Linked DNA regions of Homo sapiens: region 2 is linked to region 1. The links come from fine-mapping of genetic effects on gene expression. Tissue or cell type: lung. Region 1 holds a variant in brackets; the other region holds the start of a gene. All regions are shown on one strand. Distances are from middle to middle.

Region 1 (8,407 bases):
GCTGACACAAGGTTTTATGCTTTTGCAGAGCTTTACAGGTATTTTAATAGGAGACAGAATGCATCTTAGACTAACCCAATGTTAATTTTTACATATGCCTGAGGCAGTTCCCCTCCCTGTCTTAGAGAACGATGTACTCTTTATACACATAAAACAATGATTTTTCAACTTTGATAAGGGCTGAAAATTACACCACTCATCAACTCCCATGGCAGCCACATGATGCCTGCAGGTGGAATTCTACAAGATGACATAAAGGGGGTTAAACAGAAGCATCCTGGCCTCTAGAGCAAGCAACGGTATCATGCAAAATGGCCCGTAGGAACTCTAGCCGCTTCCAGGAGCTTGTCATTAGGCTGACTCATCCTCTACTAAACTTAACAGATAGTTCACCAGCAAGGATATCCCTTAAACACATGTCAAAAGGAAAAATATAACACAGTGTATCTTTACCTTATAATAAATTCTGGCCACCAAACCCCGCTGAAGAACCCTTTCACGAAATTTCACTGCTTTCAACAGAAAGGCGAGATCATCAACTGTGTCCATGTTAAATGCCAGGAAACTGAAAGAAAATCACGGTGACCATCATTATTATTTTGGCCTCACCAAGAATTTCATTTGAAAGAAATAGAGTAGGTTTGTTTTTTAAAACTATTTTTTTCTGTAGAAAAATAGTGTCAATAGACATAATCTCCCCATCCCATCTCTCACTGACTGTATTCATAATTCTTTTCGGTAATCTTAGCTCTAGTTTATTCTAGGTGGTTGTCCTTGTGGTATAGAGATGATTTGGTTTCCTAATTGTTCCACTTACTATTGTATTATAAGTAGTGTTCAATATTTTACATAGTCTTTCTTAGTTAACAGCAATGTAATTTCTGTCAAGTATAATCAACCATTATACAATTCATGTATAACTCAATCATTATACAATTCTTTTTTTTTTTTTTTTTTTGAGACAGAGTCTCACTCTGTTTCCCAGGCTGGAGTGCAGTGGCACGATCTCGGCTCACTGCAACCTCCACCTCCTGGGTTCAAGTGATTCTCATGCCTCAGCTTCCTGAGTAGTGGGGATTACAGGCACATGCCACTGTGCCTGGCTAATTTTTGTATTTTTAGTAGAGACAGGGTTTCACCATATTGGCCAGGCTGGTCTTGAACTGCTGACCTCAAGTGATCTGCCCACCTCAGCCTCCCAAAGTGCTGGGATTACAGGCATGAGCCACTGTGCCTGGCCCCCATTATACAATTCTGTCAAGTGAGTTTATAATAATAACTCAACCACTATACAGCTCTATCAAGTGAGTTTATAATAACCACTGCTGGGCATTTATTATAATTATTATAATTGGATATTAATAATCAAATATATCTATTACAAAATATTTATCAATTAATAATACTTATTAAATATATTATATATCAGGAATTGTGTTCATTATCTGCTGTGAATTATTCAATTTTCTCGATAATTCTAGAATACTATAATTATCCAATGTAGAGTTTAGGAAACTGAGGCTTAGCAAGATTTGGTAACTTGCTCAAGGTCACACAGGCAGAACTCAGTCAAGCTCAGGTTTTGTTGGGGAACATCAGCATTTAAAGCAAGAGGCACCCTGGAGGGAAGTGATAGGGCTGTGTGCAAGCACAGGGGAGGATGTGCTACAGAGATGGTAGCTTTCTTCAGCAGGCAGCAATTCCCATCTTTCCCATTTGGCAAATGAGGAAACTGAGGCACAGAGGAGTTAAGAGAGGTAAGCACAGACTCAAAACAACCAAGTTCACAATTAAAAGCTCGTGAGCTTTTCATCATGAAACTCTATTTCATGCCAATTTTATGGACCCACCATGAACCTTTAGATAACCTAGACAACCAGGGGAAGGGTTAATTCACACTTAGGGTTTCCCATAGCACAGCCACCTCTTGCCCTCCCCTTTCCCCACTTCCTGAGGAAGTAAGTTATTACAAGACTCAAATAACTTAAATTCATATTAACTAAAAAAAAACCCAAGTGGCTGTTGTTGCTCAATCAGAAGGCACGAGAGAAACGTTAAGAAGCAATTGACGCAGTGCTTTTGAGATGCCAAGTGCTGAATTAATAATCACCCTCCATTTAGACAGGGAAGAGGAAAGTATTTACATGCCAATTACCGGGACATTTAAAAGATGTCAATGTTTATTCTGAATCTGGGCTTTAAGAAGTTTGGGTTTCTGCCTCAGTCTATTTAATGAAAGATGTAAAAAGCTTTCATATATTATTGAAAAGTATGTTTTAGTCATTCCAGGGGCTGATATTGGAAATTAGCTTCCCTGGAATTCAGACTGTAGAACATGTTTGTCCACCTGAGATTGTGAACTGCACGTGCTGCAGGAAGGGGATCTCACCCACTCGCTGAGTCATGTGAGTCACATGTCATGTAGGTCTAGGAGCCTGCCCAGTGCAGTAGAGTGTGCAGACTTTCTTTAAAAATAGAAACATTGCTAAAGGCAACCTCCTTGTAACTGTGTATTTTACAAGAAGATCCAAATGACTCTATTTTTAAATAAAGTTTAAATTAAATTAAAATAAGTATCATTAGACATCAGGGAAATGCAAACGGAAACCATAGTGAGGTAGCATTATACATCCACCAGAATGACTACAATTAAGTACACTGACATCAAGTGTTGCCCAGGATCTGGAGAAACCAGAACTCTCATGCTTGCTGATGGGAGTGTAAAATGGTGAAATCTCTTTGCAAAATGTTGTCACAGTTTCTGATAAAAATAAATGAACACATACCCTATGATCTAGCAGTTTCACTCCTACTAATTGCCTAAGAGAAATAAAAACATATGCTCACAAAAAAGGTTATACAAGAATGCTCATAGCGGTTCTACTCACAGAAGTGAGAAACAGCAAACATCCCAGGTGTCTATTCATCCATAAGAGAATGATTCTACTATATCCATAAAGTAAAATACTACAATAATGAAAAGAAACAAACTAATACACACAACAACATGGGTGAATGTCAAAAAGTATTATGCCAATTTCACGAGGCAGCTACAAAAGAGTACATACTGCCTGGTTCTGTTTATGTGAAGTTCTAGTATAGAAAAACTAATCTGTGGTGGGAAAATATCAGAAGAGTGGCTGTATCTGCGTAGTGAGATTGTCCAAGAAGGGGCATGAAAGAACTTTCTGGAGTGATGATCTGTATCTTAATATGAGTTTGGTTACATAGGTTTATGCATGTGTCAAAACTCAGTGAATGTACACTTAAGATTTGTGCATTTTATTGTACGTAAATTCAACATAAGAAGAACTATAACTAAATATGTAACTGTAGTTAATGACGCTCATGCTAAATTATTTAGAAATGTGCTGATGTCTACAGTTTATTTTGAAATGGATCAAAAAGAGAAGGTGAATGGATGGGTGAGTTCCATACACAGATCCATAGATATGATAGTGATATAGCAGGTACAGTAATAGGTTGATAGAATCTCCATGGTTTGTACATAAATGCTTCCTGTAAAATTATTTCAACTTTGCTGAATATTTGTAAATTTTACAGCATAATGTAGAAAAACACGTTGGGTGCAAGGCAAAATCTTGACTTTCCTGGACATCTACCACCACCTCCTAAAGGTCCACAGGCTGATGAGAGTGGGAGGGGCCCCAGTGGCAGGCTACCATGCAGGAGGAAGAGAGACAACCCTTGCAGGGACAAGCCAGAGCTGAATGGGGCTATCTGCAGAGCCAGGTACAACCCCCTTTCAAAGCCACTTCCTTTCAGGGCTCCTCTCCCTGCCATGCTCCATCTGCCTTACCTCGTCCCATGGAGGCTTTTCAGTACCATGACTGACTCCTTCCAGGCCGAAATGAGGGGTAGTTACTGTGCGGACAAATGGGTGCCCACTGGAGGGATTTAAGGGTACCAGGAAGTTCTCAGCCCATCTTTCCTCAGGTCCCCACCTGCTCAAGAGTACCT[T/G]TCTCAGGGCTGTCACTATGCCTACTATCCTACTGCTCTCGGAGTGCAGACTCCATGAAGACAGAGCCCCTAGTAACTGCTGATCACCAATGCTTAGAGAAGTGCCCGGTACACAGTGAGTGCTGAAAACACTTTGATGACAAAGGCTTTCCTTCATATAAAGTCAGAGTAAGTAAAGTTTCGGGATTTAAGTAGATAAACACAGGGACTGAATCAGTAAAACCTAGATGTGTGGGAGACAGATGTACACTGTTTTGGAGGTTAATAACTGAGACAAAAATAAATGGACTGGAACTTTCCAAATATTTACATTTGGAATACTGCCTTTGGCACATCTCAACTCTGTGCTGGAAAATGTGCTAGGGATATAGATTTGCATATGGGTGAGAGCGTGTCGTGCTTCCAAAATGATGGAATCAAGCCCTGCTTTGCTATCTGAAAAAGAAACGAAAGGGCAGATGATTTGTGGCCAGTTGGGGAACAAGTTTCCTGCAAGGATGGAACTGATTCTGGTGGGGAGTCGTACTATTCTTTCAACTCCTTAATATGTTGGACAATTTTCAAACTAATACATTGGAGGAAAAAGCTAACCATACTGTAAACGTCCTACTCAACAGCTAGAAATATTAGGAAGACCCACTAGCTCTAGTATGAAGACAAATGGAGACATTTAAACTAACAGAGACTCCAGTGAAACAGTCCTAACATGTAGGAGCTCGTGTTTTCAAGCTTTAAGATGGACCACAGTTTGAATAAACAGGGTCCTGAGCAGCAATAAAAAAAGGAAAAAAAAAGACAGATAACAGATTTCTCAATTTCACGTCATCCCAATGGCTATAAAGAATCCCAGGCCATCATTTACTGTGTTTTCCATGTGTTTAATCAGGATTGTGAGATTCTATTTTCTAATGAATAGTTTCCTTAGAAACTAGTTCAATACTTTTGGTTTGAGGGACCAATAATCTCATTCAAAAAAATAATAATTAAAAAATACACAAAAGAAAAAAGCATAACAAGCTCTCTAAAAGTATAATATAGGAGACAATACATTCATGAGCATAAATCAATGAAATAGAAAAGAAAGGTATGACACAAAGGATCAAAGGGAAAAATCAGTTGTTTGAAAAATAACAATAAACCAGTCAAACATCTGAATGAGACTGAGCAACAACAACAAAGAAAGGAGAAAGCATAAGAAGGCATTTTAGGAATGACAAATGAGACACAACTACAGATCTAGCAGAAGTTAAAAAGGTAATGATAGAATAGTACACATAAAAACTTATACCAATAAAATCAAAACCAAATGAATAAATTCCTAGAAAAATACAATTTACTTAAACTAACATGAAAAGAAAAGCCTAGGCTTTAAACAATTAAGCTAATTAAATAGTTTACTCGCCAAGCCCGGATTATTTTCAAATTTGATGAATTATCAAATTCTTTCACAGAATAAGAAACCACTCCCCCCAAAATAACTCTATGAGAGATGTAAAACTTTGACATAAATCTAAATCAGGCATGTACAAGAATGGAAAACCATAAATATACAATCTCCTCCCCCTAAAAAATACTAACAAGCCAAATCCAAGAAAATATAAATATGATAATACAGCATAACAAAATTGAGTGTTTCTTAAGCATGCAAGGGTAGTTTAACATTAGATGATCGGCAAAAATTATTCACCAAACTAACAAAATGAAGAAGAAATATATGATCGTTTCAACAGATGCAGAAAAATATCATTTGATAAAATTAATCTGGTAATGACAAAAATACATTTAAAATGTATAAGCTTCTTTAGGAAGTAAAGTGTGTCTATCAAAAACTTCAGCACTCCAGCCTGAAAGACAGCACAAGACCCTGTCTCTAACATAATAAATAAAATCAGCAATAAGACAAAAGAACACCTTGTAAGATGGCTTCTATTCAAATTGTGTTGGTGGTCCTAGCTCTTGCTGTGAGACATGAAAAGAATAAAATAAATAACAGTTGGAAAGGAAGAAATAAAAATTTATAATTTGCAAATTAGTGTCTATGGAAAAAAACTCCAAAGAATCTACAGACACATTTAAAAGAAATTTCTTTACAGTCAGATTTATAAACAAAAGCCAATTGCATGTATAATAAATCATTAACTACAAAAATCATAATTTAAAAATATTCTTTTAACAACAAAATTATAAAGTAACCAGTAATAAATCTATGAAAGGATATAGTATGTATGGAAAAAATTATACAACCCTGAAGGACACTTTGAAGATGAAAATCTTTGAGAGGAAGACCTGCTTTATAAATATGTCAATTTTCTGCAAGTATATAGATTTAATATATTTTCAAAGAAACTTTCAGCAGGTTTGCAGGCCTGTGATAACAAATAACAAATGGTAAATAACAAAACATTTACCATTTTAATTTTATTTATTTATTTTTTTGAGACGAAGTTTCACTCTTGTTGCCCAGCCTGGAGTGCAATGGCGCAATCTTGGCTCACTGCAACCTCCGCTTCCTGGGTTCAAGCAATTCTCCTACCTCAGCCTCCCAAGTAGCTAGGATTACAAGCATGTGCCACCATGCCTGGCTAATTTTATGTTTTTAGTAGAGACGGGGTTTCACCATGTTGCCCAGGCTGGTCTCAAACTCCTGACCTCAGGTGATCCACCCGTCTCAGCCTCCCAAAGTGCTGATACACGCATAAGCCACTGTGCCCAGCCCATTTTGACTATTTGTAAGTGTACAGTTCAGTGGTATTAAGTACGTTCACCCTGTTGTACAACCATTACCACTATTCATCTCCACAACGTTTTCATCTTCCCAAACTGAAACTCTACCTATGAAACAATAACTACCCATTCTCTCCTCTTCTTAGCCCCTGGGAACCAATATTCTACTTTCTATCTCTACGAATTTGACTACTCTAGGTATGTCATGTAAGTACAATCCTACAATATTCATCCTTTGTTTTACTTCTAAGAAACTTGACAAACTTATTACAAAACTTACATGAAATGGCCAAAGATTCTGAACAGCCAACCCAATTCTGAATTACATTTCTGATATAATAATACTATAGTAATATTTTATTATAAAGCCAGAGTAATTATAACAGTGTATTGTTGGATCAAAAATACACAAAGAGACTAGGAACAAAATAGCCCCAAGACAAACTCTCAAATAGACGGAGATTTAATAAATGTCAAAGAGACCTTGCAGGTTACTAGAAAAGAATGTCCAATTCAGTAAACGGTGCCGGAACAACTGACTGTCCACAAAGGAGAAAAATAAAATTAGATCCCTTCCTCAAACCATACACAAAAATGTGTATGGATTCAATAATTAAATGTAAAAGGTGAGACTTTCAAAGTTTTAAAGATATAGATTTCATGACCTCAGAATAGATGATGCAGAAAAAGTGTTGGATATAAAAGAAAAGATTGATAAGTTCGACTATAATTAATGAATTTATCTCAATCAAAACACACGATAAAGAAAATATAAGACAAGCCACAAACATAGAAAAGATAATTATAGCATTTGTAACAACAAAGGATAAAGAGCCCTTAAAAATCAATAAGAACAAGACACACACACACACACACACACACACACACACACACAATAAAAATAGGCAAAAAACATGAACAGGCATTTTACACAGGAAGAAATACAAATGGCAAACAGACATGTGAAATCATGCTCATCCTTAATAGTAATTGAGAAAATTCAGTTTAAAGTCAGGGTGAGAGATCATTTCTTATATTGTATTGACAAAAATTAAGAAGTCTGATAGTACCAAGGGTTGGTGAGAACAGAATAAGGCCCCACAAGATACATGCTGCTAATGGGGGTGTAAATTTATACAACCACCTTGAAAAATAATTTGTCACTATCTAGTAAAGTTGAACATTACTCCATAGCACAGCAATTCCATTCCTAGGTAATATATACCGTAGGGGAGTGTTTTTCAAACAACAGATTGCAAATAACTAAAAGGTCATAAAATCAGTTTAAGGGTTGGGGTCAGTATTTTTTTTTTTAGGCAAGGTCTCACTCTGTTGCCCAGGCTAGAGTGCAGTGGCATGATCTCAGCTCACTGCAACCTCTGCCTCCCAGCTCAAGTGATCCTCCTGCCTCAGCCTCCCAAGCAGCTGGGACCACAGGCATGTGCCACCACGCCTGGCTAATTTTTGTATTATTTTTGTAGAGACAGAGGTCTCACCATATTGCCCAGGCTGGTCTCGAACTCCTGGGCTTGAGCAATCCTTCTGTCCTGGCCTCCCAAAGTGCTAGGATCACAGGCATGAGCCACCATGTCTGGCTGAAATCAATATTCTGCTAAGATCAGTATTCTTTAAAAATAAAATTTAAAAATATCAGAGAGCATCACTAGTAATAAATAGGAAGGTAGCCACTGCTCCATGAACT
Region 2 (8,407 bases), 260 kb after region 1:
ATTTTGCCACAATAAAAAAAAATGGCTGTAGGAGGAAACATTTTAGGAAACTTTCAAGTTGTCCAAATTATTTGACTCTTCCTAGTGAGAACGTGTTCATGAAATACTCATGGGGAAAAGCTAAACACATGAAAAGGTTAGGAAGAGAAATGTGCATTGCTCTAGGGAAGGAAAGAGAAGGGGACAAAGAGAAAGAAAGGGAGAAGGAAGCAGCCAGGAGCTACAAGTGGGAGAAGAAGGGTGTGAGAAGGCCCTGAGAGAACAGAATCCTATGGGGGGGCTTTCTCAGTTCTCCGGGTGAGAGGTGTGTGCTGTACCTACCTCTGCCAGCCAGCCTCTCCTGAGAGAGCTTCCCTTCACCAATAAACAAACTCAGAAAAATCTCAAAAGCTTATCTCATTTCAGATGTTGCTTTTTAACATTCCCTGCAAATCCCAATGAGGAGCCGCCAGTCACCCAGAATGCTCCTGCTGTCACAACAAACAGCACACCTGGTCAGATGCACAATAGGACAGGGGCGGGCACAGCAGCCAGGATGCTCCCGGAGTCTGAGGACTTAGCCCAGCAGGCTCATCCTTGGGAGAGAGAAAGTCACTCCTTAGAAGAGGAACCTGGGCTGTGCCTACATTGCCCCTGGGAGCCGATGGCCAGCACCCTGGGAATGAACTCCTCCTCTGAGGAGAGTGGCCACCCAGTGTGTGTAGGAAGTTGCACAACCTCTTTTGGAGGAAAACTGTTTCCTGAGCTCTTATGCCCTGGGATTGCCTGGCCCTGTACAAACTTCTCACTATGTACACACAGCACTCACCACTACGCTGCCACAACCCTCTCCCCTACACCTACTTTAACTGCAAAGACCTGTTTGGGGTAAGGTGGGGACAAGCCACAGGAGATCTGGCATTGCCTCAGAGAGGAGGAAGTTTTATTTCTCATCTCCTAATGTTCTATAACATTTTACATTAGGAGAATGTTAAAACATCCAGAAATCAAGATCGCCATCTTCTAACATGGGCTAAGGTAAAATCTGATAGTACAATATGAACTTTCAAATAGATAGATATCAGAATCTTTAACCATTTGGGGAAAAAATATGAAATGTTGTTCATGCCATTACTACAACTCTGAACTATAAAGTAAATAAACAAGAACTGGAAAGAATGGAAAAGTGTTTGTCAGGGTAATGGGATTTTTGCTTTTCCCTTTGCGTGCAAGTGTGTTTTGGTATCCCACCACAACCAGTGTTTACTCCATGCCCACGCAACAGTTTTTCATTCAAGCTTCATAACACAGCAGCATTGATATTATCTGCATTCTGTAGATGAACAAATGTAAGTCAATAAGGGGGAAAAAAAAATCCAGGACAATGGTCACACAGGAAATAAACTGCCACACTGGACCCCTTATCCAGGCATGCCTTTCCTCTGTCCCTATGGAATTCACAAGGAAGTCCCTTCTGCTTGCCTCAAATCAGTAGTTTGGTTATTACAATTTTGTTCCGTCTTTTAAACTGCAGTTATCTAAACTGAAAGACAAAGAGGTGATAGCCCAGGAACAAACTGAAAAGACTGAGGAATATAGGAGGGGATGTGTGTCTAATCAGATGCGACTGAACTCAGTATGACTTAAAGCAGCCGTTCACAAACATTGATTTTAGGAACTCTTTGCACTGTTAAGAATTATGAGGTCCCAGCACTTTGGGAGACCGAGGCAGGCGGATCGCTTGAGGTCAGAAGTTCAAGACCAGCCTGGCCAACACGGTGAAACCCCATCTCTACTAAAAATACAAAAAATTAGCCAGGCGTGGTGGTGGGTGCCTGTAATCTCAGCTACTCCGGAGGCTGAGACAGGAGAATCGCTTGAACCCAGGAGGTGGAGGTTGCAGTGAGCTGAGATCACACCACAGCACTCCAGCCTGGACAACAGAGTCAGACTCCGTCTCAAAAAAAAAAAATTATGAGGTCCCCAAAGAGCTTTTATTTGGGTGGGTTATATCCACTGATATTTCCCGTATTAGAAATTAAAACAGAAAAGTTTTCAAATGTTTATTAATTCATTTGAAAATAACTAATAAATCTATTAGTGTATTTTATGAAAATAACTATTTTCCAAAACAAAAAAAGTTAGCAAGAAGAGTAGCATCGTTCTATATTTTTACAAATCCCTTTACTGTCTGTCTTAATAGAAAGCAGCTGTATTCTCATGTCTGCTTCTATATTTTTTCTGCTGGAATACTACACATCATGTGGTCTCTGGAAACTGCCACTGTACATTAGTGAGAGAATGAGAGTGAAAAAGCTAATAACTTTTTTTGTATTACTATAAAAACAGTTTGTACTCATGAACCGCCTGAAATGCTCTTGGGTCCCCCCAGGGCTCCCTGTACCACACTTTGAGAACCATAACTTAAAGAACTATGTATGAGAGAGAGGGAAAGAGAAGTCGGCGAGACACTGATGGATATACCCACCATCCCACACTTCTCACTTTTCAACTTTCAAACGCCCCCAACTCCCCACTAGGTAACCTCAGTGCAGGAACCCCAGATTCTCCAAGGACAGCCTGACGTTCACTCAAGCCATCTCCTTCCCTCTCATTTCCGCAAAATAAATTAAACGAGGGCTAAGTGGGCATGGCTAACCAATTAATCCTCCACGGGCACATACTGACATTTTTAATAGGGCCTTTCTTAAGCTAGAACTCCAAAGCATGCCTCCAACTGGGCTTTTCAGACTGCTTGAAATGGGTATGAGAAAGAGAGCCCACAGGAGACACGAATGCCGAGTTCTGGTCCTGACTGTCCGGTGACTGAACCATCTCTCTATCTCCAGTGCAGCTCAAGCACTCAACCCTCTGCCTGCTTCTCAGGGCTGTCCTGGCATCGGATGACATCGAGGACCTGAGTTCTTCTTATAACCAAACCGCCCCGCTGAAGCTGCCCATTCCGCACACCTGCACTCCGAGGGGGTCCTGTAAGCCTGTCCCACCCCGACGCCCAGACACGCCCTGGACAGGGCCACTCCATCCCTGTGCGCCCATCCCATCGCGGTTTTCTGTCCCCTTCTCCCCACCAAGGGTGGGACATCGCGGGGCGGGGACTCAAGAAACAGGTTCAACAAACCAGCAAGGCCGATCTTCCAGCCACACGGTCTTCGTAGACACCGCGCCTGTCACCGCGGGGCCCAGCCCTGCACCCGACTCTTCGTGGGGGAGGGAGCTCGGGAGGAGAGGGCACCTCTCAGGGGGCCGAAGAGGTCGGCGGCGGCCGGCTGCGCCCACACACCTGGGGAGGGGAGCCCGTCACCTGCGGCGAGGCAGGGACCCGCCTCTCAGGCGCGGCGCACACCCCACCTCGCCCTCGCCAGGGCGTTGTCCGCAGCGACGCTCCGGGGACCGAGGGGACACGCTCGGCGGCTTCGGGGGCGCGGGCAGGGGCGACGGCCGCAGCGCGGTACCTTTGCCGGAAGAGCGGGCGCCGCCGAGGAGTCCGCGCAGCTCGTTCTTGAGGCTCCAGAAGTCGCCGTCCAGGTAGCGGTGCAGGGAGGAGTCCCCGAGCCCCAGACCCGGCGCCGGCTGCATCGCGCTCACCTGCCTCTGCTTCTCCGCGTGGCTGGCAGGGCCGGCTTCGCTCCGCGCCTCCTCCAGCTCCCAGCAGGTGAGGCCCCAGGCGCACGCCCTCTCCCTCTCCACCCCTCCCGGCCCGTCTCCTCCCTCCTCACCTTCCTCTCCCCTCCCTCCCCGGCCCCGCCCTGCCCTGGCTTCCCGGGCGGGAGGTCCGGCGCGAGCGGGCGCTTCTACGGTGGCCTCCCCTTGCCCTTCCGAGGAAGCGAAAACTCTACCCTCCAGTTATCAACTGTCCCTCAAGATTTGTGAGCCGTAAGAAACAAGTACTAGACCCCTAGAAAGGGTGCCAGTCACGTGGACCTGGGCACCAGAGGCCCGGCTGCTCAGGACTGACCGGCTGACCCACTCAGCAGATCTCCCGGCCAGCCACTTTGCCTGACCCCCACGACCCAAGATAGCCTGGCTCCAGCTCTGGCCCCTCCTCAGCTGTATCTCACCTCTTCCCCGCACTGGGCATTACTGTGAACTCTAATATCACGGTAATCTAAAGGCGTCCCAGGTCTACAGCACTGCAGTCCAGGGTAGCTGGAAGCTGCATTCATGACGAGGTGATCGACCGGAACACGATACTCATTTCCCAGGACACTCCTTTTTTTGTTGTGGCTGGAGGAAAATGAGTTATAACCTAAGTGGAAAATGTTCCTTCCTTTCTGCTCCCTAATTCTCATATACCTTGTTGATTCTCCTTTTAAATACTCAAGGAAATGTTAGCCGTTCCCTTCCAGAGGCTACTTTGCTGGGGAGATGATGGTGTGGTCTGCTGTCGTGAGGTTAGTGGATGCCATCTGTATTCGTTTCCAGTAACAAATTCCCACAAAGTGAGTGGCTTAAGATAGCACCAATTTATTCTCTTACATTTCTGGAAGTCAGAAGTCCAAAATAGGACTTACAGGGTTAAAATCAAGGTGTTGGCAGAGCTGGGTTCCTTCTCACAGCTCCAGGGAAAAATGCATTTCCTTGTCTTTACTAGCTCCTAGAGGCTGCCTGCATTTCTTAGCTCCTGGCCCCTTCGTCTGTCTTCAAAATGCATCACTTCAAGCTCTGCTTTCATCGTTCCATCTTCTACTGACTTTGACCTTCTTGCCTCCCTTGGACTTGTTTACATGGGACCCATGGGAATAATCCATGGTCAATGGGAATAATCTTCCCACCACAAGATCCATACTTTAATCACACCAGCAATGTCCATTTTGCCATATCAGAAACACACTCTCCGGTACTAGGGATTAAAACATGAGCACCTTTGGCGAGTCATTCCTCTGTCTACCACACCTGTGCAGCTGCGAGTAATAATACCCAGTCATCCATGATAAAAGGGGCTTTGTTTTCTCACATCACAGGAAGCTTGGTGGTAGGAAAGCCCCAGGGGTGAATTTGATGGCTCTACCCTGGGGACCCAGGTCCTTTGCATCTTTCTGCTCCACCATCCGCCATCCTTTCTCTATATGTAATCGTTACCTTTTTTTTTTTAACTTGTCTTCTACCAGTTGTAAGATGGATGCTGCAGCTCCAAGCACCACCCTGTGCAAAGCAGAAGAGGAGTATTTCCTTCTATATCAGCCAAAATAGTGTAGTGGTAACAAACAACCCCGAAACGACTTCACATACACTTCCTCAAATCTTAGGGCCTAAAAAGACAAGAGTTTATTTCTCACTCATGCTACCTGGGGGTTCTGTTCCATGTCCCCTCGGTCCAGGTCCTGGCTGACAGAACAGCCATGATTGTGTGGCCACACTGGCTTTTAAAGCTTCCAGCTGGAAGAGACACACATAACTTCTACTCACAATCCACTGGACAAAGCAGCTCACTCCTGTCTCGATGGGGGAAGGGAGGTACCACCCTGGACATGCCCAGGAGGTCAACACCCAAAATCATCTGTAAGCAGAGCTAGTGACTATTCAATCTGCCCTTCTGGTCACACTCTCCCTTCCACAGGCAAAATATACTCTCCATCCTTCCAGGGAAGCAGCCAAAGCCCCACACCTCCACAACATCAAGTCTGAGGCCCCTGGGGGATACAGAGTGGTCCTTGCATCAAGTCAGGATGTGGCTCCTCTTGATCCGGAGACCTATAAACTGAAAAGATAGGTTACTAAGTTAACTTCCAAGTGAGTGTTTGCTTGAGTGAGAAAAAAGAAAGGCCTCTGTTCTTAGAAGCCACTAAGATTTTTGTTGTTGTTGTTGTTGTTTCTTGACGTGGAGTTTTGCTCTTGTTGCCCAGGCTGGAGTGCAATGGCATGATCTTGGCTCACTGCAACCTCTGCCTCCTGGGTTCAAGCGATTCTCCTGTCTCAGCCTCCTGAGTAGCTGGGATTACAGGTGCCCGCCACCAAGCCTGGCAATTTTTTGTATTTTTAGTGGAGACACGGTTTCACCATGTTGGCCAGGCTGGTCTCAAACTCCTGACCTCAGGTGATTGTGATCCACCCACCTCGACCTCCCGAAGTGCTGGGTTTACAGGCATGAGCCACCGCACCCGGCCAACCACTAAGATTTTTTTTGAGGGTCATTTGTTACGTAGCCAATCATAGAAGATACTAAAAGAATGTTGCTGATTAAATAAAAAACTAAAATAGGTACATTGGCTTAGAGGCTGGGAGGGGCAAGGAGGATGCTGTCGACCAAAGCATTGTTGTTGACCAAAATTGAAAATGGTCCCTTTTATGAAGAGGCAAATATTTGACAAAGTTGCCACTGACAGGAGACAGACCTAACTTGGAACTTATCACTCCAAGAGAAGTTGCTGAAAACACAAGGTTAGTATTGCATGTTGGCTGCTTTTGCTTGTGTTTGGCAAGACATTATAAGAAAGAGATGGGCTTACAAAAGAATTAACCAGTTTGCAAGCAGGGATGGAAGGGAATAGAGTCCACAAGTTCAGGGACTTTTAGGGTTGGGAGAGGCAACTGCTTCACGACTTCTATTAGTAAAAGATGAAACTGAGAAATATTTAGTAACAAAAGCCCATTAAAATTCAGGAAACTCAGACTCTACTCCCTTGCCCCTTGTGGCAAGAATAGAATCAAGAGTCTCACTTGAAACCTGTAACAAATAGGTTTTGTGGATTCCCAGTAAGCCATCTTACTCCCGGGCCTTGTCCATCTGAGCAACCCCCATCTGAAGCATCACTGGTCTCTGCGTCAGAGGATGAGAGCACGGTTTGGATCACCCACGGACTTGTAAATGTACACCCAGAAGTGTCAAGCGTAATCTAGCCTGTCCTGGAAGATACCTCAAGAATCTGTTTACAAGCCACACCTCTCTCTAAGAGCCAGAGAAGTGTAATCCTCCCAGGCGCCCCCACCAGCCAACGCTAAAGACTACCACACTCCTGTGAATCTTTTGTTACTAGGAAAGAATAGCTGACAAAAGACCCAGTAAAATTGCCCTTGGGCCATCTTGGCTTAACTAGGTCCCTTGACCACTATATTATTTTCCTACAGTAACAAATTACCAGAAACTTGGTTAGGTAAACGGCAGAAATTTAATTATCTCACAGATTTGGAGGCTAGAAATCTGAAATGTTCAGCAGCGCCTTGTTACTTTTGAAGGCTCTAGGGAAGAATCCTTCCTTGCCTTTTTCTAGATTCTGCTGGCTCCCAGCAATCCTTGGTATTGCTTGGCTTATAGCAGCATCATTTCACACTCTGCCCCATCATCACATGGCCTTCCTTTCTGTGGGTCTCTATGTCTTCAAATCTCCCTCCTCTTGAAGGACATTGGTTGTAGAATTTAGTGCCCTCCCTAATCCAACATGACTCATCTCAACTTGATTACATCTGCAAAACCCCTATTTTCAAAGAAGGTCACTTTCTGATATGAACGTTTAGGGAACACTATTCAACCCAGTATACCCACCCAGAACTAACGGGAACTGACAAATGAGAAAGAAATAAAAGGAAGTGACCATATACTGGCTTAGATCAATGGTTTCCACACTAAGTGTGTATCAGAGTAACCATGAACACAGACACACAAATACACACGACTTGGCCAATCGATCCAATTTCTAGAGGTAGGCATCTGTAGTTTTTAAAAGCTCCTCTCCACCCCAGGTGACTCTACTATTGTGCAGCCAGGGCTCAGCCCATGGGCTTAGGCTCAATGGTTCTTGATCTTGCTACGCAGGGGATTACTACATTATTGGGAAAATTGGTGAAATTTAAGCAACATGGATAATATAATACTGTATCAATGTTGACTTTATGGTTTTGATTATTGTACTGTGGATATTTAAATGAACGTTCTTGTCATTAGGAGCAAATTCAAGTAGTTAGGGGTAAAGGGGCAACTGACTCCAAATGAGTCTGAAAAATATACACAGAGAGAGAGAGAGAATAAAATGTGGCTCCCTGGACTATCTGTGTTACGCAGGACTTTCTCTTACAAGTACAGTCACACACCACATAACAATGTTTTGGTCAACAACAGACTGCATATATGACATTGGTCCTGTAAGATTATAATGGAGCTGAAAAATTCCTATCACCGCATGACATCATTGGTGTCGTAAAGTCATAGCCCAACATATTACTCACTTGTTTCTGGCGATCTGGTCAACAAACTACTGTGATCAGATCCATAGAGCCCAGGTTAATAAAAACACAAAACTTCTGCACTACCAGTTGTATAAAAGTGTAACATATACAATTATGTACAGTAGTGCATAATACTTGATGGTAACAGTAAATGATTATGTTATTGGTTTATGTATTTACTATACTATACTTTTAACCATTATTTTGGAGTGTACTCCTACTTACTTTTTAAAAAGTTAACTGTAAA

Evidence for each region. PIP is the estimated chance that this variant, and not a neighbour inherited with it, causes the effect.
Region 2: it holds the start of ACOXL, and the variant in region 1 is the best candidate, but not a certain one, in a credible set for the expression of ACOXL in lung (TOPMed, PIP 0.77).

The regions. Positions count from the first base shown.
Region 1 is chr2:110,988,051-110,996,457 of GRCh38, reverse strand. ACOXL (acyl-CoA oxidase like) reads right to left here. Exons shown (of 18, transcript NM_001142807.4): 14 at 454-565. Among named protein-coding and RNA genes, the nearest start is that of ACOXL-AS1, 120 kb to the left of the region's middle. The variant T/G (reference allele first, on the strand shown) is at 3,982.
Region 2 is chr2:110,727,820-110,736,226 of GRCh38, reverse strand. It overlaps ACOXL (acyl-CoA oxidase like), which reads right to left and starts at 3,654. Exons shown (of 18, transcript NM_001142807.4): 1 at 3,453-3,654. LOC124906064 (a long non-coding RNA gene) reads left to right here and starts at 3,802. Exons shown (of 3, transcript XR_007087181.1): 1 at 3,802-3,873; 2 at 4,323-4,391; 3 at 4,592-4,866.